3 separate regions of the Homo sapiens genome follow, and regions 2 and 3 are each linked to region 1. The links come from fine-mapping of genetic effects on gene expression. A gene starts in region 1. Each other region holds a variant in brackets. All regions are shown on one strand. Distances are between the middles of the regions. Region 1 holds the start of IL6 (interleukin 6). Region 2 overlaps STEAP1B-AS1 (STEAP1B antisense RNA 1). Region 3 overlaps LOC401312 (a long non-coding RNA gene).

The links. PIP is the estimated chance that this variant, and not a neighbour inherited with it, causes the effect.
Region 2: its variant is fine-mapped to the expression of IL6 in fibroblasts (GTEx, PIP 0.94).
Region 3: its variant is fine-mapped to the expression of IL6 in whole blood (INTERVAL, PIP above 0.99).

The regions. Positions count from the first base shown.
Region 1 is chr7:22,723,259-22,731,441 of GRCh38, forward strand. It overlaps IL6 (interleukin 6), which reads left to right and starts at 3,942. Exons shown (of 5, transcript NM_000600.5): 1 at 3,942-4,023; 2 at 4,186-4,376; 3 at 5,435-5,548; 4 at 6,256-6,402; 5 at 8,148-8,183. The coding sequence starts at 4,005. It overlaps IL6-AS1 (IL6 antisense RNA 1), which reads right to left and starts at 4,362. Exons shown (of 2, transcript NR_131935.1): 1 at 4,310-4,362; 2 at 2,137-3,447. RefSeq lists a silencer at 3,357-3,406 and an enhancer at 3,392-4,591.
Region 2 is chr7:22,568,292-22,576,474 of GRCh38, forward strand. It overlaps STEAP1B-AS1 (STEAP1B antisense RNA 1), which reads left to right. Exons shown (of 4, transcript NR_038393.1): 3 at 3,484-3,722; 4 at 3,794-5,707. Among named protein-coding and RNA genes, the nearest start is that of STEAP1B-AS1, 9.0 kb to the left of the region's middle. The variant T/C (reference allele first, on the strand shown) is at 4,389.
Region 3 is chr7:22,657,144-22,665,326 of GRCh38, forward strand. It overlaps LOC401312 (a long non-coding RNA gene), which reads right to left. Exons shown (of 5, transcript NR_122075.1): 2 at 5,939-6,773. Among named protein-coding and RNA genes, the nearest start is that of IL6, 66 kb to the right of the region's middle. RefSeq lists enhancers at 7,230-7,837, 7,838-8,183. The variant G/A (reference allele first, on the strand shown) is at 4,874.

The DNA of each region.
Region 1 (8,183 bases):
CTTTGGTCACCAGGCCTGGCTGCCCTCCAACATCAGCTGGCTCTTTCTAAATTGACACACCACATGTCCCTAAAATTCTCTCTTCAAGTAATACCACCATCAAAGCAGGACATTTCCCAGAGCCTTAGAGCCTGGTGTCTGCTCAGTGGGACTCAACCCCAGAAGAAGCTGTTAAATCACCCACTGTTTCAGTTTACAAACTTCTTACGACTTGGCAACAAGTGAAACTACATTCTGGCAGCAACTGCAAGTTCCCTAGTACCCAGGACTTCCCGTTTTTTCTTGCTGTACTCCCTCCTGTTAAATCACAGACTCATCCATCTCCAACCCCCAGAATATAGAGAAAGAGCACAACACTACATCTTAACTCCTGAGACGTGGAGAACACTTCTCCTCCTGAGAGCTTAAGTACCAAATGGAAGCTACTTTTCCCCCTTGGTCTCAAATGTATTACTAGATTCTGAACTGGACTCCACCATCACGTAAGAAAGCAGTCATGGGCAGTAATTCTGGGAGATCCAGATAGGACATGCCAGCCCCACACTGGTGGCATAGGAAGCCAAGTTGCTGCTTCCTCCCTGTGCACTCCCATTTGTCTGGCCTCTCTTGATCTCAGCTGGCGCTCACTTCACATCAGCTATGATGCAATCCAGCAACTAAAGTATTAGTTAATAAATGCTGACAGCACAGCCTTTTCTGGTCACGTATTCATACTAAAATACGGGGGAGAGTTGGGGGGAGAGGGGGATATATGGGAAATCTCTGTACCTTCCTCTCCATTTTGCTATGACCTAAAGCTGCCCTTTAAAAAATACAAGGGGCTGGGCACAGTGGTTCACGCCTGTAAACCCAGCACTTTGGGAGGCCGAGGCGCGTGGATCACCTGAGGTCAGGAGTTCAAGACCCGCCTGGCCAACATGGCAAAACCCCGTTTCTACTAAAAATACAAAAAGTAGCTGGGCGTGGTCGCATGCATCTGTAGTCCCAGCTACTCAGGAGGCTGAGGCAAGAGAATTGCTTGAACCTGGGAGGCGGCGGTTGAAGTGAGCCAAGATCATGCCATTGCCCTCCAGCCTGGGCAACAGAGCAAGACTCCTTCTCAAGAGAAAAAACAAAACAAAACAAGAAAAAACAAAGAATGAGCTCTCCACGCGAAAAATCCATTGAGATGCAAAGGAAGGAAGCTATCATTGTGGAATTGCACATGTCAGTTACATTAACGTTTTTGGAGCAAGGTAGAGCTCATCTCTCCCACAAGCAAATTCCAGCCCAAAGCATTGATACTAATAAAGTGCCATGCTGCGATGTGCAGGGGGCAGACAGTGTCTCCAAGCTCCCTACACACATGCCTTCCCACAGTTTGCCCTTTCTTGACCCCAGAAGCATCAGGCCCCTTCACCCTCGAGGGCCACTATCAGGAGTTTGAATTAATGGCAATCACCATGCACAGGGAAGGCTGTGGAATTCTGACATAAAAACACTTAGTGGAGGGCTTGGAAAAAGTCTAGTAGGAGCAAGACGCAAGCTGGACTAATTATCTAAAACAAGAGACCTGGTTTGGGGATCTTAATGTTCTCAAAAAAGAAAATTATTATTATTTTTCATTTTGCACTTTGTGCCATAAAACATTTTCAACAAAACATAGAATCTCATTTCTTTTGAGGGAAAATGATTGGGAGACCAGCTCATTGCTGGCACAGAGGCCTGGTTCATTCATAATTCCTTCATAGGCAAGACACCAGGTGAACCGATATAGCCGAGCTGGAAGAGCTCTCCAAGGCAGAGACTCTGAGCCAAGGAATGTTCAAAGAGCTAGCATGTATTGTGGGATTACTATGCGCCAGGAATTTTTTACACTGCATCACGTTCCATCTTCACAACAGCCCTAGAAAGGAAGAACTATTATTACCCCCGTTTTATAGGTGAATAAACAAGGGCACAGGTCCTTGATGTAACAGCCAGGATCAAACAGCTGGGAAGACGAGAAAACCTTTCCCAGGCTAGGATAACAGAGGATTTGGTTGAAAATACAGGCAATTAGGTGCTACCTCTGGGAAAAGGGGCCAGGAGAGGAAGGAGACACTTTTCCCTGCATGCCCTGATGTCCTATTTGAACATTTTATCATGAACACGAACTTCCTATTTAAAAAACACTTTTTATTGAAAAGATAAATCTGTGTGTTGTATTGTGTCACTCAGTTCAAGTACTTGAAATTTATTGAATTGTATTTTCTAAAAAATAGATAGTTGAGTAAAAGCAAGCTCACATTACATAGACGGATCACAGTGCACGGCTGCGGAGCTGGGAGCAGTGGCTTCGTTTCATGCAGGAAAGAGAACTTGGTTCAGGAGTGTCTACGTTGCTTAAGACAGGAGAGCACTAAAAATGAAACCATCCAGCCATCCTCCCCCATTTTCATTTTCACACCAAAGAATCCCACCGCGGCAGAGGACCACCGTCTCTGTTTAGACAATCGGTGAAGAATGGATGACCTCACTTTCCCCAACAGGCGGGTCCTGAAATGTTATGCACGAAACAAAACTTGAGTAAATGCCCAACAGAGGTCACTGTTTTATCGATCTTGAAGAGATCTCTTCTTAGCAAAGCAAAGAAACCGATTGTGAAGGTAACACCATGTTTGGTAAATAAGTGTTTTGGTGTTGTGCAAGGGTCTGGTTTCAGCCTGAAGCCATCTCAGAGCTGTCTGGGTCTCTGGAGACTGGAGGGACAACCTAGTCTAGAGCCCATTTGCATGAGACCAAGGATCCTCCTGCAAGAGACACCATCCTGAGGGAAGAGGGCTTCTGAACCAGCTTGACCCAATAAGAAATTCTTGGGTGCCGACGCGGAAGCAGATTCAGAGCCTAGAGCCGTGCCTGCGTCCGTAGTTTCCTTCTAGCTTCTTTTGATTTCAAATCAAGACTTACAGGGAGAGGGAGCGATAAACACAAACTCTGCAAGATGCCACAAGGTCCTCCTTTGACATCCCCAACAAAGAGGTGAGTAGTATTCTCCCCCTTTCTGCCCTGAACCAAGTGGGCTTCAGTAATTTCAGGGCTCCAGGAGACCTGGGGCCCATGCAGGTGCCCCAGTGAAACAGTGGTGAAGAGACTCAGTGGCAATGGGGAGAGCACTGGCAGCACAAGGCAAACCTCTGGCACAGAGAGCAAAGTCCTCACTGGGAGGATTCCCAAGGGGTCACTTGGGAGAGGGCAGGGCAGCAGCCAACCTCCTCTAAGTGGGCTGAAGCAGGTGAAGAAAGTGGCAGAAGCCACGCGGTGGCAAAAAGGAGTCACACACTCCACCTGGAGACGCCTTGAAGTAACTGCACGAAATTTGAGGATGGCCAGGCAGTTCTACAACAGCCGCTCACAGGGAGAGCCAGAACACAGAAGAACTCAGATGACTGGTAGTATTACCTTCTTCATAATCCCAGGCTTGGGGGGCTGCGATGGAGTCAGAGGAAACTCAGTTCAGAACATCTTTGGTTTTTACAAATACAAATTAACTGGAACGCTAAATTCTAGCCTGTTAATCTGGTCACTGAAAAAAAATTTTTTTTTTTTCAAAAAACATAGCTTTAGCTTATTTTTTTTCTCTTTGTAAAACTTCGTGCATGACTTCAGCTTTACTCTTTGTCAAGACATGCCAAAGTGCTGAGTCACTAATAAAAGAAAAAAAGAAAGTAAAGGAAGAGTGGTTCTGCTTCTTAGCGCTAGCCTCAATGACGACCTAAGCTGCACTTTTCCCCCTAGTTGTGTCTTGCCATGCTAAAGGACGTCACATTGCACAATCTTAATAAGGTTTCCAATCAGCCCCACCCGCTCTGGCCCCACCCTCACCCTCCAACAAAGATTTATCAAATGTGGGATTTTCCCATGAGTCTCAATATTAGAGTCTCAACCCCCAATAAATATAGGACTGGAGATGTCTGAGGCTCATTCTGCCCTCGAGCCCACCGGGAACGAAAGAGAAGCTCTATCTCCCCTCCAGGAGCCCAGCTATGAACTCCTTCTCCACAAGTAAGTGCAGGAAATCCTTAGCCCTGGAACTGCCAGCGGCGGTCGAGCCCTGTGTGAGGGAGGGGTGTGTGGCCCAGGGAGGGCTGGCGGGCGGCCAGCAGCAGAGGCAGGCTCCCAGCTGTGCTGTCAGCTCACCCCTGCGCTCGCTCCCCTCCGGCACAGGCGCCTTCGGTCCAGTTGCCTTCTCCCTGGGGCTGCTCCTGGTGTTGCCTGCTGCCTTCCCTGCCCCAGTACCCCCAGGAGAAGATTCCAAAGATGTAGCCGCCCCACACAGACAGCCACTCACCTCTTCAGAACGAATTGACAAACAAATTCGGTACATCCTCGACGGCATCTCAGCCCTGAGAAAGGAGGTGGGTAGGCTTGGCGATGGGGTTGAAGGGCCCGGTGCGCATGCGTTCCCCTTGCCCCTGCGTGTGGCCGGGGGCTGCCTGCATTAGGAGGTCTTTGCTGGGTTCTAGAGCACTGTAGATTTGAGGCCAACGGGGCCGACTAGACTGACTTCTGTATTTATCCTTTGCTGGTGTCAGGAAGTTCCTTTCCTTTCTGGAAAATGCAGAATGGGTCTGAAATCCATGCCCACCTTTGGCATGAGCTGAGGGTTATTGCTTCTCAGGGCTTCCTTTTCCCTTTCCAAAAAATTAGGTCTGTGAAGCTCCTTTTTGTCCCCCGGGCTTTGGAAGGACTAGAAAAGTGCCACCTGAAAGGCATGTTCAGCTTCTCAGAGCAGTTGCAGTACTTTTTGGTTATGTAAACTCAATGGCTAGGATTCCTCAAAGCCATTCCAGCTAAGATTCATACCTCAGAGCCCACCAAAGTGGCAAATCATAAATAGGTTAAAGCATCTCCCCACTTTCAATGCAAGGTATTTTGGTCCTGTTTGGTAGAAAGAAAAGAACACAGGAGGGGAGATTGGGAGCCCACACTCGAATTCTGGTTCTGCCAAACCAGCCTTGTGATCTTGGGTAAATTCCCTACCACCTCTGGACTCCATCAGTAAAATTGGGCGTGGACTAGGTGATCTCATAGATCCTTCCTGCTGGAACATTCTATGGCTTGAATTATATTCTCCTAATTATTGTCAAAATTGCTGTTATTAAGTATCTACTGTGTGCCAGGCACTTTAAATAAATATTGTGTCTAATCTTCAAAACAAATTTGCAAGGAAGGTTTTTGGAGATAAGGAAACTGAGACTCAGGATTAAGTAACACACCTAAAGTCACAGGTGAGCTTGGAACTGAACCCAAGTGTGCCCCCACTCCACTGGAATTTGCTTGCCAGGATGCCAATGAGTTGTAGCTTCATTTTTCTTAGAGACTTTCCTGGCTGTGGTTGAACAATGAAAAGGCCCTCTAGTGGTGTTTGTTTTAGGGACACTTAGGTGATAACAATTCTGGTATTCTTTCCCAGACATGTAACAAGAGTAACATGTGTGAAAGCAGCAAAGAGGCACTGGCAGAAAACAACCTGAACCTTCCAAAGATGGCTGAAAAAGATGGATGCTTCCAATCTGGATTCAATGAGGTACCAACTTGTCGCACTCACTTTTCACTATTCCTTAGGCAAAACTTCTCCCTCTTGCATGCAGTGCCTGTATACATATAGATCCAGGCAGCAACAAAAAGTGGGTAAATGTAAAGAATGTTATGTAAATTTCATGAGGAGGCCAACTTCAAGCTTTTTTAAAGGCAGTTTATTCTTGGACAGGTATGGCCAGAGATGGTGCCACTGTGGTGAGATTTTAACAACTGTCAAATGTTTAAAACTCCCACAGGTTTAATTAGTTCATCCTGGGAAAGGTACTCTCAGGGCCTTTTCCCTCTCTGGCTGCCCCTGGCAGGGTCCAGGTCTGCCCTCCCTCCCTGCCCAGCTCATTCTCCACAGTGAGATAACCTGCACTGTCTTCTGATTATTTTATAAAAGGAGGTTCCAGCCCAGCATTAACAAGGGCAAGAGTGCAGGAAGAACATCAAGGGGGACAATCAGAGAAGGATCCCCATTGCCACATTCTAGCATCTGTTGGGCTTTGGATAAAACTAATTACATGGGGCCTCTGATTGTCCAGTTATTTAAAATGGTGCTGTCCAATGTCCCAAAACATGCTGCCTAAGAGGTACTTGAAGTTCTCTAGAGGAGCAGAGGGAAAAGATGTCGAACTGTGGCAATTTTAACTTTTCAAATTGATTCTATCTCCTGGCGATAACCAATTTTCCCACCATCTTTCCTCTTAGGAGACTTGCCTGGTGAAAATCATCACTGGTCTTTTGGAGTTTGAGGTATACCTAGAGTACCTCCAGAACAGATTTGAGAGTAGTGAGGAACAAGCCAGAGCTGTGCAGATGAGTACAAAAGTCCTGATCCAGTTCCTGCAGAAAAAGGTGGGTGTGTCCTCATTCCCTCAACTTGGTGTGGGGGAAGACAGGCTCAAAGACAGTGTCCTGGACAACTCAGGGATGCAATGCCACTTCCAAAAGAGAAGGCTACACGTAAACAAAAGAGTCTGAGAAATAGTTTCTGATTGTTATTGTTAAATCTTTTTTTGTTTGTTTGGTTGGTTGGCTCTCTTCTGCAAAGGACATCAATAACTGTATTTTAAACTATATATTAACTGAGGTGGATTTTAACATCAATTTTTAATAGTGCAAGAGATTTAAAACCAAAGGCGGGGGGGCGGGCAGAAAAAAGTGCATCCAACTCCAGCCAGTGATCCACAGAAACAAAGACCAAGGAGCACAAAATGATTTTAAGATTTTAGTCATTGCCAAGTGACATTCTTCTCACTGTGGTTGTTTCAATTCTTTTTCCTACCTTTTACCAGAGAGTTAGTTCAGAGAAATGGTCAGAGACTCAAGGGTGGAAAGAGGTACCAAAGGCTTTGGCCACCAGTAGCTGGCTATTCAGACAGCAGGGAGTAGACTTGCTGGCTAGCATGTGGAGGAGCCAAAGCTCAATAAGAAGGGGCCTAGAATGAAACCCTTGGTGCTGATCCTGCCTCTGCCATTTCTACTTAAGCCAGGGTTTCTCATATGTTAACATGCATGGGAATTCCCTGGGCATCTTCTTGTGGTGTGGAGTCTGACTTAGCAAGCCTCGGGTGGGTTTGAGGGTCAAATTTCTACCAGGCTTATATCCCTGGTGATGCTGCAGAATTCCAGGACCACACTTGGAGGTTTAAGGCCTTCCACAAGTTACTTATCCCATATGGTGGGTCTATGGAAAGGTGTTTCCCAGTCCTCTTTACACCACCGGATCAGTGGTCTTTCAACAGATCCTAAAGGGATGGTGAGAGGGAAACTGGAGAAAAGTATCAGATTTAGAGGCCACTGAAGAACCCATATTAAAATGCCTTTAAGTATGGGCTCTTCATTCATATACTAAATATGAACTATGTGCCAGGCATTATTTCATATGACAGAATACAAACAAATAAGATAGTGATGCTGGTCAGGCTTGGTGGCTCATGCCTGTATTCCCTAAACTTTGGGAGCCTAAGGTGAGAACTCCTTGAACTCCTAAGGCCAGGAGTTCAAGACCAGCCTGGATAACATAGCAAGACCCCATCTCTACAAAAAACCAAAACCAAACAAACAAAAATGATAGTGGTGCTTCCCTCAGGATGCTTGTGGTCTAATGGGAGACAGAACAGCAAAGGGATGATTAGAAGTTGGTTGCTGTGAGCCAGGCACAGTGCTGATATAATCCCAGCGCTATGGGAGGCTGAGGTGGGTGGATCATTTGAGGCCAGGAGTTTAAGACCAGCCTGGTCAACATGGTAAAACCCCATCTCTACTTAAAAATACAAAAAAGTTAGCCAGGCATGGTGGCATACACCTGTAACCCAGCTACTCAGGAGGCTGAGGCACATGAATCACTTGAACCCAGGAGGCAGAGGTTGCTGTGCACCACTGCACTCCAGCCTGGGTGACAGAACGAGACCTTGACTCAAAAAAAAAAAAAAGAAGTTTGTTGCTATGGAAGGGTCCTACTCAGAGCAGGCACCCCAGTTAATCTCATTCACCCCACATTTCACATTTGAACATCATCCCATAGCCCAGAGCATCCCTCCACTGCAAAGGATTTATTCAACATTTAAACAATCCTTTTTACTTTCATTTTCCTTCAGGCAAAGAATCTAGATGCAATAACCACCCCTGACCCA
Region 2 (8,183 bases), 150 kb before region 1:
CTTAAGAGACTGTCCTTCACCAATATATGTTCTTGGCCCCTTTGCTGCTGACCCTTTTTCAAACACAACAAAAGCCATCTCGTCCATGTGTCCATGAGTTCAATTGTTGTAGAAACAGCCCCATATATTTGAAATGAAGCTGAAAAAGGGTATAAGAAATTCATTTCTGCCAGCTTGAATATCCAGCTCATCACACTTAGGCAACTCTCCTAACCTAGCTTGCCAAGAGCCACATGCCCACTTTGAGGACAAGAGACCCTACCAGAACCCTGGAGATAGGCATATTTGGTCGCTGATTCTCCTTGGCCCTCATGACCATGAACTGACCTCAATTCTCTCCAATTTCACTGCCTTGCAAACATTTTGTTGTTGTTTCATTTACTTCCCACACTGGTGTGCATACAGTATTCAAACGGATAGTTTGAATCTTTTTTTGAGACAGAGTCTCATTCTGTCGCCCATACTGAAGTGCAGTGGTGTGATCACGGCTCACTGCAGGATTGACCTCCCCCAGCTCAGGTATCCTCCCATCTCACCTCCCCAAGGAGCTGGGACTACAAGTATGCCACCACACCCAGAAAATTGCTTTCGTTTTTGTTTTTGATAGAAGAGGGGTCTTGCTGTGTTTCCCCAGCTGGTCTTGAGCTCCTGAGCTCAAGCCATCCACCCGCCTTGACCTCCCAAAGTACTAGGATTACAGGCATGAGCCACCGCTCCTGGCCCATCACAAATCTCTTACTCTCTCTGTGCCTTAGTTTCTTCATCTGTAAAATCAAGATTGTGATAATAGTACCCAGCTCACAGGCTTGTGGTGAAGATTGATTGAGTTGATAGTACAAAGTGCTTAAAACAGTGGAGGGCATACAGTAAGTGCTCAGTAAGTGTTAGCTATTATTAGTAGTATTGTTATTATCATTACTATTAATGTTAATTAATATTAATGTTAAACACAGTGTCTGACTTGCATTTTTATTCGCAGCACCTAGTACAGTACCTGGGATATAGAAAGTGCTCAGGAAAAGTCTGCTGGATGGATGAATAAATAAATAAATGAGGATGAGCAATTTCAATGCAGGGGCTGTATATCTTCGTCTCTGTTTAGTACAAACCTAGTCCCTAATAATTCTTTAAAAATGCATGTTGAATTTTGAATCAATGGCACACAAGAAAGTTTCTGCATTTATCTTGTACAGTACAGAAAGCTTTGGAGGAACACACACACAAAAAAAATTAGTGATAGCATTGAAGTAGTGGGGGTGGTACCTAAGAAACTCTGGGAGATGGAGAGACCAAGATGTGACTTTGGGAACAATTTTTAACTTTTCTGGGTTTCTATGTTCTCCTCTATCAAATGAGGCCGAGTCTCTGGATCCTAAGAGGGCTAAACCAGACAATGCTTGCAAAGTGCACAGTTCTAGGCCTGGCACCTGCGAACTGCTCATTCAGTAAGTGTTGGCTTTAAAACCATGTGTCAAGTACAGCTGACACATGTCCCTCTGCCCATCAGGCTGCAGGGCTTGACCAGAAGGTGAGGGGCCCTGATTTATGGGACAATAGCCAACTACCCAGGAACCCATCTTTCTACCCCATCTTTCTAAATATCTTAACCAGAGGCTTCTCTTTCTTGTGCCCTCTTACCCATGATCCAGGGACAATCTAAATAAGTTCCTGCTACTATAACCAGAACTTCTCTAATTGTCATGTGCAAGGTATTTCTCCAAAACCTTTCAAAGAAGTACAGACTCGTCGTACCCCTTCAGCAGACTTTAGAATGAAACTGGGCATTTCCCACTGGTTGCCTTGCCCGCAACTTCCTCCCTTGGACCCTCTCCAAGTCTACGCAGCCGACGGTGTCTTAGAAAGGAGACTCAGAGCGTGATGAATCGAGCACTCAGTCACAGATTATATTCATCTTCATGCTTGCCCAATATAAACCAAACTTTCGGCTTAGTTGGTTTAAATCCAGAAAATACCCAGCAGTTTATATCTTATCTCTGACCATTCTATGAGGTCTGTATGATTAATTTTTTTATATCTTTTTTTTTTTTTAGACAAAATATTACTCTGTCACCCAGACTGGAGTCCAGTGGTGTGATCTCAGCTCACTGCAACCTCCGCCCCCTCAAGTCCAAGCCACTCTCATGCCTCAGTCTCCTGAGTAGCTGGGATTACAGGCACCCACCACCACGTCTGGCTAATTTTTGTATTTTTAGTAGAGACAGGGTTTTGCCATCTTGGCCAGCCTGGTCTCGAACTCCTGGCCTCAAGTGATCTGTCCACCTCAGCCTCCCAAAGTGCTGGGATTACAGATGTGAGCCACCACACCTGGCCTAAAATGTCATATATTTTGAACTGACTGACTTCTCCAAAAACTTATGGTTATTAGTTGAGAGAGAAAACTTGAGAGAAAGTTTCCCTGCACTTGGATGAGAGGAGAGCGGAACAGCCTGCATCTCTGGTGCTGGGGAGTATCAAATAAGGGGAATTGGGAGAAGGATGGAGGCAACAGCGTAGCTCTTTGCCTTTCAAAATTAAAATGGGATGCTGCTTTATATTACAAATCTAAGGAATTAGAAGAGCAGCAAACTAAGCAACTAAGTTTGTTCTCCTTGCATAAACTTTAAAAAGCCAGCTTAAAAGTTCTCAAGCTTAAAATTCGAAAAATGAAAACAAATGCATGGCATGACAGAGGGGATAATTCCTGCACTTTTGGAAATGTTCTCATGTTTTCTTCATTTCATCCTATGAATGAAAATGCCGTCAAAGGGGAATAAGGCTATTCGCAGAGTGCTCATCACCACGGTAACCACTGAGCATCTGTACCCTTTAGTATCTTCATTTTGATTATAATAAATGAGTTACGAATCTATATCTGGGGCCCTAGTTATATATTTGCCATATGTTCACACCACATGCACACACACACACACACACACACACACACACACACACTCACATATATGGTGACTAAGACTAAGAGTCAGCCTAAAAGAAGAATGATTTGGAGCGGGAGCTCTTGGAGGGAATGGTAGGAAAATAACAGGGATCCACTCAGTCTCATTTTCTACTAAATTTCAATAATGAGAAGTGTGCTCAGCAAATGTTTGTTGACTATATGAATAAATGAAATGGTGCATTTAACCAGAATTGCATATTTAAATATGGTGGTAGTGTGTACAATATTAGAGGAAGGAAATGCAGGCAACAAGGAGAAGGCTTCTGCGATGATCCATGACACTCTGATATTGCCATTCTGTGCAAAGTTGCTCACATTTTGACATTCATGATCATTTTTAATTCCCCAAAACAAGCAACTGAACTTTCAACTTCCTTTTATTACCATAAAATAGATGCAATAGATACCCTCACCCCATTCCTCACCCACCCCCCAATTAGCTTTACCTGGTGCCTAATCCACAGCCCATCCCAGACTCACCCTATCCCTCCTTAGACTTCTCTGTATCTTTTACCCGATCCTTCCAGGTGTCCAAACAGTGTCATCCGGTGTCCTGACATGCGGCCCCAATGGACTGATCCAGGGTGGAAAGGAAGAGTGAGAAGAAATCAGACAGAAGAATTCAGGAGATGTGGCAACAGAGTGGATGTAGCAGAAGGGACATAGAGAGTGCCTAAAGATGAGTCTTTGGTCAGCATGTGATGAAAAGAATGAAGACACTGGGGAAGTGGGGAGCAGAAGCGGATGTGGGCCCAGGAGGAAGAAGGTAGGTTTGGACTGGGGCATGCTGAGGTCAGTAGCAACATCAAAGTCCTGAGCACCCTCATATTGTTGCAGATTCCAGAGAGCAGAGATGGCAAAAAGATGCATGGAAGAGAGACACAGCAGGGTCGGGTTCTGGCCTCAGGAGCCAAGGGGGAAGTGCCTGAGGAGACCCCCAAATGAGGCCTGTGTCAATGAGGTCTTTAGGGGACTGGTTTCCATGTATGCCAGGCCATACTCCCTGGATTCCCAGCATTGAGAAGACCAAACACTTCTACACATTTATTACTGAAGCCCCCTGCAAGCTGAAGGCGGAGGAAGTGGCCAATCTCCTAAGCCGTGTGTGGCTGAGGCAGTTGTCAGAGCTGTGATGAGGGAAATGCTCATTATTCTTCTATCCCTCACTTGGCCAAATAAAGAACTTCTTAGAATTCTTCCCCTGTGACAAAACGGGGCTGTGATTTGGAAAGCCTCAGGCAAGTTTGCTAGGGCCGCGGTAACCAAGCACCACAGACTGGGTGGCTTCAAAACTGGACGGCTTCAACAGAAAGTTATTGTTGCTCAGTTCTGGAAGCCAGAAGTCCAAAATCAAGGTACTTGCAGGGTCAGTTCGATCTGAGGGCTGCGAGGGAAGGATCTGTTGTAGACCTCTCTCCTAGGTTTGCAGGCA[T/C]TGGTCCTGATGTTCACAGGGCATCCTTCCTGTGCCTTCACATCATCTTCTCTCTGAATGTATCTCTGGGTCCAAATTTCCCTATTTTAAAATAAGGAAATCAGTCCTATTGGGTTAGCACCCCGCCCCTCACTTTAACTTGATTACCTCTGTAAAGACCCTACCTCCAAATAAGATCACATTCTGCGTACTGAGGGCTAGGACCTCAACATCTGAATTCAGGGTGGGTGGATGCACAATTCATTCCATAACATTAAGAAGGAAGGGATAAGTGCCCAAGGAATCACATGCTCGCTTGGGGAGAGTTCCAAGCGTGCAGAGCTGGTGGTCATAGCCTAGCCTCAGGCCTTCGGAAATCCCCTGAATCTGGTTTTCCCAGTTCTCATAATCTCATTTCACCAAAATACGGCATCTCAATACATTCCATGCATTTCTGGTGACAAGCTCATTCTGGTGCACGCTAAGCAATGTGCTAACTACGTCTTAACTAGGGTGGTTTAACTGGTTTGGTTAACATAGATCTCTGAGTCATTTCACGCATTCCTTAAGCCTAAACAAATCTCATCCAGGTGTTTAAGACATTGCACAATATTAGACCATCTGAAGCTCCATCTCCTTGGGGCAATGATGATGATGGTGATGAAAGTGGCTGGTGACTGTTCTCAGTCTCATCGCCATAATGGAACCCTACGTTGTGTTCCTCCACACTGGTGTGAGGGACACTACTAAGTGCGGCAGAGTTTGCACTCAGGATAGAGAAATATGGACTCACGCACAGATTCCAGCTGAGTCCCTCCGATGTGCTAGGTACTATGTCCAGCCCCCCAGGATTCACCTGTAAGCAGGACAGTCTTTTGGATGACAGAGGGAATTCTCATATATCCACAGGCAGATGGAATTTACAAGTGGAAAGACCTAGAAGTTCAGAGACAGGGGGACTGAACTTTTTGCTTTCAGTCAGAATCTTTGCTTACGGTTGTGCAAATGCTTGCATTGGTGGGTTTCCATGCCATATAACGTGCTACATATTTTTACGTTACCCTTGCACATAAGCATACTGTTGGGAGGGAAAATGAAGAGGGTGGAGGTGGTAACAAACTCAAGCTAAGGAAATGGAATTTGGATGGGTACAAAGTCCAGAGAATTAGCTTGAGGAAAATGAACCAGGATTCACACAGGAGTTTTCAAACATCTCAATATCAGGACCCCTTTACCCTCTTAAAACTTACTTCGTGAGGACCTTAAAGAGCTTTTGTTTGTGTGACTTATATGTATTAATATTTACTATATTAGAAATTAAAAGTAAGGAATGGTTGTAATATGTGTTCATTCATTTAAAATAACTATAACAAACTCTTTATTTTTTAACATTAATAATGGTTTTCATGAAAAGTAACTATATTTCCCCCAACCCCCACAAAATGTAATGATAAGATTGGCATTGTGTTATATTTTTAGAAATTTATTTAATATCTGGTCTTAGAGAAGATGGCTAAAATCTCCTATCTACTTCTGTATTCAATCTGTTACTTACGTTGCTTTGGCTGAAGTATAAAAAGAAAATCCAGTCTTACACAGTAAAGTCAAGTCTTAGATAGGTATACAGTTGGAAAAGGCAGGATTTGCGATCTCTCAGAAAGAACCTAGGGACCCCCAGCAGTCCCCTAGCCATATTTTGAGAATTGTTGGACTAATAGTGGTTTTATAATCTTGTTATATCCTGATTGGATTTCTCTTTCTAACTATACCATTAAACGGAAACTCAAATTTCAGAATTTTAATCCATAATATGAAATTTTAGATATGGATTAGTGTCATGTAGATATATGCAAAGTCTTAACTCTTTCTACCTCCACATTTAAGAAGTCAGTACAGTGGCATGACTTTGGCTCACTGCAACCTCTGCCTCCCGGGTTCAAGCGATTCTTGTGCATCAGCCATCCGAGTAGCTGGGATTACAGGCACGCACCACCACACCTGGCTAATATTTGTATTTTGAGTAGAGACAGGGTTTCGCCATGTTGGCCAGGCTGATCTTGAACTCCTGGCCTCAAGTGATCTGCCTGCCTCAGCCTCCCAGTGCCCGCAATGGGATTGCAGGCATGAGCCACTGCACCAGGACTAAAAGTCACTATCTTTTAGTTTGTTTGCGGTGAAAAAAAATAGTTTAAAAAATAAATTAGAAACAGACACTATTACCCAGTATCTATATTTAATCACAGAAATATTTCTTAATGCTTCCAACTCTGAAGTCCCAGACATTCTTAACTATGTACTGTAGTTATAAATAATATGAAGGCTGGAGCACAGTGGCTCACGCCAGTAATCCCAGCACTTTAGGAGGCCATGACAGGCAGATTGCTTGAGCCAAGGAGTTCGAGACCAGCCTGGGCAACATAGTGAGACCCCTCTCCCGCCTCATCTCTACAGTAAATAAATTAGTCAAGTGTGGTGGCAATGTGTCTGTAGTCCCAGCTACTCAGGAGGCTGAGGTGGGAGGATCCCTTGAGCCCAGGAGGTCAAGGCTGAAGTGAGCTGTAATTGCACCACTGCATTCCAGCTTGGTCGACACAGCGACAGCGTTTTTCAAAAAGAAAGAAAATATGTATCCCTGCACCATAGGAAATAGGAAGTATTGTGTGACTTTTTCTTGGTCTTTCGAGGAACTATGTCATATGAATCATGATGACTGCTGAAAATGCACAGGAAGATAAAGAAAAGTGACTTGTTGCTCAACTGTTTCAAGCCCAACTCTGGGTACCAAACTGTGGCTCCCTAAACTAACCCAGAGGGCTTGACTCTGACAAAGCTCTAGGTGCAGCCATAAGACTGACCCTTAAAAATCTGACCTGAGATAGCGACAGTCTCACCCCGAAAGCAGACCACAAATTGGGTTTATAATCTAGTGGTTTGCAGGATATGACATACTACCTAATGAACAGGGTGACCGAGTTTGGTGTGATTAGTCCGCAGATGCCAGAAAGGCTGAAGAAGCCTGCCATGAAACTAAGTTTCTGGCCAGTGGTTCCAGCCTAATCTCAGACCCTGGGAACAGAGAAGCACCCCTTCATCTCCTCCTGCAGGTAGAGATTCACCACATTCACCTTTGTAAGCTCCCTTTCCAACAACCTTGGGCACCTTTTGCAACCTATAAAGGTCCTCTCCTTGAATGCCTGCTGCTTTTCCCTGTGCTTGTCCTATCTCACTCAGATCTTTGATTCCCCTGACGACATTCCCCACCCCCTCCCCACCCCATCTCAGCTGTCCTTCTCAGCCTCGCTATCTACTCTCATTCCTCACCTGAGTGTTCCAGCAAGATCACTGTTCTATAAAGGCTCAACCTTCAAACTTGCAATACACATTTCCTGGGTCCTGCTTTGTCTCTATCCTCTGTGCTCAGCCCTGGTGTAGGATCAGTGTTCCTGTCACTCCATCTCCTTTTCCAGGGATATTTGCATCTTTAGTAGTAGTCTTCATTGGTGGTCCTTCAGTGGAGTGTCACAAAGAGAAGGGAAAACACTCAGGTACTATGAGGGGAAAGGTTGGGGACTGTTGAGAGATCACAAGGACACCTCTCACTCCTACCCCCAAAGCTACCTTAACCTATTCCTGTCAAGACAGAAGGTTGGCCGGGTGCAGTGGCTCACACCTGTAATCCCGGCACTTTGGGAGGCCAAGGCAGGTGGATCACCTGAGGTCCAAAGTTTGAGACCAGCCTGGCCAACATGGTGAAACCCCATCTCTACTGAAGATACAAAAAATTAGCCAGGCATGGTGGCAAGTGCCTGTAATCCC
Region 3 (8,183 bases), 66 kb before region 1:
ACTGCAGTTCATCTCCTTCTGACCCATCTTATTTTCCTCACTCACAAAAGCAGTCCCCAGTTACCTCTCAGCATGCTTATCTCCATCTCAGAGCCCATTTCTTAGTGAGTATGTCTAGCAAAAGTTGTTGCAGGAATGGTCTAAAGAAGCAACATTAAAATGGGCTACAATGAGGAACTCAGTCCTAGTGATAAGATGAAGCACTGAGATACACTGATTTGTAACCACAGTGAATTTTTTTAAATTTGCACTAGGATGAACTAGGGTGGGAAACAGTAGAAGGGAATGCACTGTCAGATGCAATGTATTAAGTCGTTGAGCTATGGGTTGGATAATAATTATAAGGGCTATGGAATTTGATGGCTGTTGTCAGGGAGAGAGATGTATTGAGTAAAAACAGTGAAAGACTGAGTGTGATCAATCACTATTTAAAATTAAATGTGACTACCAGAGGCCTTATTGGAAACACATAGAGAAACTCTCATATCCTGCAGCCAGAGGGCAGAAAACGCTGAGTATCAGACCCAGGACTTCATTATAAAAATAGCAGAATCACAGAGGAAATTGAATTCTCAACCCAGAAGGTATTCCACATCAGAGTCTGGTCTCTAATTATGAAGGGGTGAGACACTGAGACTTGGAATGGGGAAATTTATGTTGATACACTCATAAATCTCAAATCCCCAGATTCTCCACCCCACCCCCAAACTTCCTGAGCCTAAAGAATTGGCTCACTCCTTTCTAATAAATTCTATCACTACCTCTTACCTGAAGACAGGTAAGCCCTCTTCTAAAAAAACACTTGCCTGTGCTGGGCAGTCTTTAAAATAGCCCCAATGGTCCCTGCCTTCTGACAGTCCCACCCTTATGTAGTCCTCTTCTACTTTGAATAGAGATGACTTTTGTAACCAATAGGATATTTCAGAAACAACAGAGTGTGACTTCTGAAGCTAGGCCACAAAAGGAATTGTGGCTTCCTTCTTGCCATTTTCGGATTATCCACTCTAGGGGAAGCTACCTCCTATGTTATGAGTATACTCAAACAGCATGACGGAACGATCCATGTGTCAACAAACTGAGGGTTGCTGCCAATAGCCAGTGAGTAACTGAGACTTCATGCCAAAAGCCATGTTATGAACCATCTTGGAAGTAGGACCTCCATCCCCAGTCAAGCCTTCAAATGGCCACAGCCCTAGCCAACATTTTGACTGAAATCCCATGGGAGACATTGAGCCAGAAATCCTGAGATAATAAATTTTGTTATTTTAAGTTGCTAGATTTTGGGGGTAATTTGTTATACAGCAATAGATAAAATAATACATCCTCTCAGAATCTACTCCTACCTCCCATCTTGGCCATCAGACCACTAACTAGAATTAAATCACAACATAACCAATTAAGGAAGTTCTGGGTCTTCCAAGGAAAGAAAAAAATCATATTCCCAAATAAACTGCAGTACTTAGCTAGCATATGCCAGCAGGAACTAGAATAATATGTTTGGACAGGATTTAATGCCCCAGAAGACAGCACTAAGACACATGTAGGATGGATCAGGTAAGTTTGGAGAAAACAGTAAAGAAGAAATGCCATAACTGCCACAGCAAACAGTGGAAGAAAAGATCAAAAGGCTCAGAAAAGTAGGCATGCTAGAGCAGACAGACTAAACAAGATGAGAAAATACACCAGATGGCTTTGTTCCATGATAGGGGCGAAAAGATATTCTGATTATCAAAGTGACAAGGAATACCCTGGTGAGAGGGCCACCAATGTCACTGAGAATTTCAGTAGAAAACATCCTCTACTGAAATTCTCAGTAGAATTCTCAGTGGCCATAGAACCAGGCTGATGGTAGTAGTTGTTATTACAGAGCTGAACTCATGGATAGCAATAGTGGATCCTAAAAAGGATCCTAAAATCCTTTTCAGGAAGAATCCTAAAAAGAGCCCAGGCAGCCACCTTTAACCACTAGAAGCAAGGTGGTCACAACTGTCATAATCCATGGAGACAGTTAATAGAATACAGGATTTCTAGGGCAAGTCATTAAGAGTAATGTTCAATATATAGACCCCCACTTCCCCCCACCCCCCCAAAAAAATCAAGGATTCGTGATTAAGAGACTAAGGGCAGCCCAATGAAAAGTCATTATCCCTGGCCCAGTTTCTGGATCTGAGCCAGTGTTCTGACCCAGAATCTACTGACTAAAGGAGGGGCAAGTTCTCTAGGAGGGAGGATCCTGTAACACCATGGTAAGTATATATAGTAATGATTATCTCAATCTTTCCCTAAAAGAATCTATGATCCTTTACTCAAGTAACTGTACACTTGGAAAGGGGGAAATCCCAAGCATTTTGAGAATGGCTGGACACAGAACACAAGTTTGCACTGAAACCCAGGGATCCAAAGTAACATCATGCTCCACAACCACCCCCACCATTAGAGTGGAGGCTTAAGGGGGCCAACTAATAAACGGAGTTCTGGCTCAACTCTGGCTCACAGTGGATACACTGGTTCCCTGGACTCACTTAGAAATTTTTCCTGTTCCTGTATTCATAACTAGAATCAACATACTTGGTTGTTGGCAGAGCCTCCACATATCACAGTGGGAAAGCTAAGTAGAAGCCACTGAAATTGCCTTTCCCACCCAGCCATGATAGTATAATAAATCAAAAACAGTATCATATCCCGAGGGGAACAACAGATCTAAGGATGCAGGGTGGTGATCCCCTTCACATTCCTACTTAATTCACGAGTCTGACCTTTACCAAAGCCATGTGGATCCTGGAAGATGACCGTGGACCAGCAAACTCAACTAAGCACTATCCACAACCGCAAATGCTTTGCCAGATATGATATCTTGACTACAGCAGATTAGTGTTGCCTCTAGTACCTAGTTTGCAGCCATGGATCTGACAAATGCATTCTTTTCCGTCTCTATCAGAAAGATAGATCGTAAACAGTTCTCCTTCACTTGGGACAGACAGTAGTATACATTGTCTTACAGTCTTGCCCCTGGGCTGTGTTAACTCCTCACCCTCCATCAAAATATAGTCAAAAGAAAGCTGGGTCACCTGCTATCCTGCAAAACATCCTATCAGTCCATACTACTTATGACATTATGTTACTGGGACCCAGGGAGAAAGAAGTAGCAAGTATGCTGGGGGCCTTAATAAGTCACATGCCCTTCAGATGATGGGAGATATACTCTACAAAGATTCAGTGGCTTGCACCATTGTTGGTTGCTTGCTTTCACCAGAGGACACAATAAGTTTCCCATTAAATGACAAAGTGTGGCTGCCACCCAGTTGCTTCACATTCCTCATACCAAGAGAAGAGTAGACAAGAAAAAGAGTCAGCCTCCTGGCATGAGTAATTGATTCTGATCCCCAGGAAGTGAGAGGGCTGCTTTGGGAGCAGGGAAAACTATGTTTGGCACCCAGGTAAACTGCTTGGGTGTCTCTTAATGGAAAATAGGTAAATACAGCTGTCACAGCCTAGTTTTATACCTGCCAGGTAAACCACTTGGACCAGATGGGACGGGGAAACTAGAATAGGTAGTAAAGGAGGAAGACAATGAGCATCACTTGTAGCCACCAGAGCAGCGGCTATGGTGAGAGCACTAGGTCATTCCATTCACCTTCCTCTTGTATGTTTCCCCAGGAAAAGAAGACCACCAGAATCTAGAAGAGCTGCTGTCAGAACTTATGATAGGAAGCAAGTGACTCTGAGGTGCAAAGAGTGGACTGCGGTGAACCTGCAGTGTATCACCCAGGTTTATCGCCCCCTTCAGGACTCAAGCACTCATTTCCCCACCTGCAGGGAATGTTGGTGGCTAACAGCTATCAGCTCTTGCTCTTCAGGCATTGCCCTTTGCTGAACAGTTTCTTTGCCCAAGATCACATCCCCATCCCAGGGACATCTGATATCCAATGATTAACTGATGTAGGGCTATAAGACCAACCTCAATTCAAAATAACCTTGAAGGGTTATTGCAGCTACACAGCCACTGATGGGATTAGTGAAGTTTTCTTACAACTGCATCAGAATTCTCCTTCTCCCTGTGCCCAGTAATGCTATCTACACTTTCCCAAAAGTACCGATCTCAAAAGGACTCCTCAGTAACGTTCCTGCATGCAAATCTCCATCTCATAATCTGTGTCCCAAGGAACCCAACCTGCAATGCATGCATTGTCTCATTTGATCCTCTCCACAAGATCAGAACTGCTATTATCCCTATTTTACAGTGGAAATTCAAGCCCCAAGAGCTTCAGTAAACTTGCAAACTCCCTGATTTTAGAGTCTATGCTCTTAACCAACCTGGATCAGCAAACTGTAATCCCTATGCTAGAATTAGGCAAATATTTCCCTGGATGAGACGCTCTAGGTGCAGCCAGCTGAGCACTAACTAGTCAGATGTTTCTTTTCATCATGTGTTCCCTGGGACCTACCTGGAAATTTCAAAGGAAGGTAAGAGAGAACTTCTGCAACCCAGCTCCTCTCTCCAGGCTCTTTAAGCCTCCTCACCTTATTGCTCTGGGTTCCAGGGGTCTTCTGTGAGCTCCCAATCAAGTTTAGCATTCTCTCCTGTGCTTGTGATGTTGTGCAGAGGAGTCCTCCTGACATGATCAGCTGCCACCCCAGCCACCTGGGTCCCAGATCTCAAGATAACTGGAGTGACCCAAATGCAGATCTTGGTCTTCTGAATCCAGTTGTTTAATAAGTGATTTGTGGCTGGACAGTTACATAACTGTAGAGATCACCCAGGTTTGTATGGGGTCTCACTTCCCTCTCCACCCTCAGATTGTCTGTCCCTCCCTAGAGTAAAGCTACGTCACATAGTCTCCCCCAAGTTCCAATGTGTTAGTGCCAGATATAC[G/A]GAATGCTTGTTGGGAATGTGGCTTAAACTGTCTCTACTGTGACAGAAGGACAGACTGTCATCAACTGCTGCAGGTAACCTAGAAACCCTTTGTCTTTCACAACAACTTTTTGTTATTTTATTCTCTGAGCCATCTCTTAGACAATGTCTGGATTCCCATCAACTTCTGCACATAAACAATATTTATAAGTAACCAGGCAGAGCAATGGAGTGTGTTTAGTCATTTTGCATAAGAACTTCCCTTGCACAAGTTCTATATATAACTCAGTTGGCAACCCCCTTTTCTACCCATTGAGGCACCAGTGCAGAACATGTTCTTAGGAGCACTCACAGCCCCTCCACTGTGGGTTTCTTGAGGTAATAGAAAGAAAATTCCAGGTGTTACTGTTCCCCAACCCCTTAAATACACAGCCCCCAGTGTCTCCTACACTTAGCCCCCATTACTCCCAATCATGGTTCCTCTGTTTATGAAGGTCTGCCTCCTTCCTCTGCCCCACATGTCAACCTCATTTCTGTCCTTGTTCTCTTCCCATGGCACTTTCCAGCCTTCTCCCCACAGCAGGATCTCCTTTGACTCTCTTCAATAATCTGCATACACTGTGTGCTTCCCCAAGATACCATCCCTGAAGAGCCCCATTTCACTCTGACTATTCACAAAGCCTCATTAGCATGTTCTTGTACAGTACTCACTAGCTTTGAATGGAACCTCATGCCCTTTTAGAGTCAGAATACTAAGTTCAGACACTGCCACTTACAGGAATGTGATCTGGGGGAAGTTCCTTAACTTCTCCAAGCTTCACTGTTTTCACTTGTAAAATGGCAATAGTAAAGCCTACCCAATGTGCTTGCAGAGAGGACGAATGAGGTAACGCAGTAAAAAGTAACCTTTAAATTTTAAAGTTCTATATGAATGTGAGTTATCATTATTGTGTTGTTTCTCCCCTCTGAGCTCTCTGAGGTCACATCTTTTACTTCCTTTCTCTCCCTGGGTCACACACAGTGACAGTAACACTGTAAGCTAATATTAGATGCAGAATTAAGAATGAATAAAAGAAAACCACTCACCAATCAGAATTAGGCAAAATCCTAACCATATTAAATCTATTGTAGACTGTTCCACAGAGTCAATCTAGAAACTGCTCTATAGGGAAACATCCTGAAAAGACATGAAAATTCATTTACAGTACATGCTTGCAAATTTATGCTGAGAGGAAAAGGAATAGCATCAAAACACATCCACTCTTCCTTCTAACACAGGGCCAATGTTGCTAACAAGAGACAGGCTGGCCTCGGGAACACTTGTTAGCTTTTCCCAAAAAGGCTGCTACCTTTAAATGACCAGTTATCTCCCTTAAAGAATCATTTTTTATCCCATAATATCAGTTCCTCTTCAACATCTGATGCAACTCTTAGTGTTTTCCATTGCTTTCTAGCTGTGTCAGATTTCCCTAGAAGACAGAAATGAAAGTGATGACTAAGAAGATTGCACTGAAATTTCAAATATTTGGCCTACACATTGATTCCCCCACCCACCCCTCCTATTCCGGTCTTCTTGCCCTCCACGGGGGGAAATCACTATTTCTGTGCAGTGTAAAACCTTCAGCTTTCACCATTACATGTAGACTTACAATCTTTAAACACAAATTTAGTTCATTTAGTTGGAACCACACAAAGTAGAACCTACTTGGAGATTTCAGATTTTTTTTTCTATTTCCCTGACGATCTTCTAAAGATATAGAAAGTTACATGTCAGAAGTATACCAATCGTGATCAGTTTCCCCTGTCACTTAGAAGCGACAAAGCATTTACTTATCTCCTCCACAGTGGCCCATTTTCTATATCGCAATCTTGCCTCCAAGTCAAATTGTTCAAAGCACCATGTCTGGAATGAAGAAGGGCACTGGGAAAAAAGAAAAATAGCAAGATGGAGGAAATACCAATCATATGCAGTATTTCTTCAGGCCATCTCAACATACTTCACATTTCCTTCACAGGAACAAGATAAGATTTCTCAACTGGGTATTTCTTTTAAACGTCCAAACTTGGCAGTACTTTAATGGATATCTAAGATAATTAAATGATTAGGGTGACGTATTAATATAGGTCATCGGACGGGCACGGTGGATCACGTCTGTAATCCCAGCATTTTGGGAGGCCGAGGCGGGTGGATCACTTAAGGTCAGGGGTTCGAGACCAGCATGGCCAGCACGGTGAAACTCCATCTCTACTAAAAATACAAAAAAAAAATTAGCCGGGCGTGGTGGGGCACGCCTGCAGTGCCAGCTACCTGGGAGGCCGAGGCAGGAGAATGGCGTGAACCTGAGAGGCAGAGCTTGCAGTGTGCCGAGATCGTGCCATTGCACTCTAGCCTGGGTGACAGAGCAAGACTCCGTTTCAAAAAAAAAAAAAAAAAAAAAAAAAGGATATTTTCCAGTTTCCAGTACACCCTGTTCCAGATATGCTCACTCAAGTCAAAATTACCGAGTGTAGTGGACATTTTAGCCCTACTCTCAAGCAAAAGGCAGATTTTCATAGGTCCATTTCTACCATTATTTCACTAGGTCTCCCAAGCTTCCAAAAGGTAGATCATGTGCTCGCTTCAGCATCCCGTATACTAAAATTGCAACAAAACAGAGAACACTAGCAATTTTAAAAAATAAAAATAAAGCAGATCATTAGACGACCAAAACTGTCATGGAGGGATCTTTCACATGGACAAGTGGTACCCCCGGTGTAGTTCGGAGCATCCCACAGGAACTCTACACCACCTCAATGTAGTGATTGAAAGCCAGGCACTGGAAGGACAAAGTTGAGCAAAACCACCCCGAAACATAAGAAGTTCCTGGCCCTAGGCTGACTCCCTAGCAGGTCATTTTACACCAGTCACGGAAAGACAGAGGGGCAGGAGTTGAGGGGGAAGTGGGGGCCCAGGGAAGGAGTTATCTGATCAAGTCTTAAAGGATAAACAGGAAACTGGACAGCAAAAGGGGAAAAAAGTAGCCAATCCGGGCAAAGACAGCACCATCAACAAAGAATCAGGACGAACAAGAGAATGCCCTGTGCAAACATCAGCAAACGTCTGCCCCGTGTGTGTTTGTGTGCGGCCGCCAGGTGTGGCGTCATGGCTGCCATTTTGTTCTTCTCTGGTTGGCTCCTTGGGCGCCTACAGCCTGTGAAGCACTGCCTGACGCCTACCGCTCGCCCACCTCCCCGCCTCCTCCGGGCGCTGCAGCCTCCAGGGATCCCTCCGCCCCCCACCCCCGGGAAACCTGGAAGTGGCCACCAGGCCCGGTGGTCCGAGGTGAGCTAA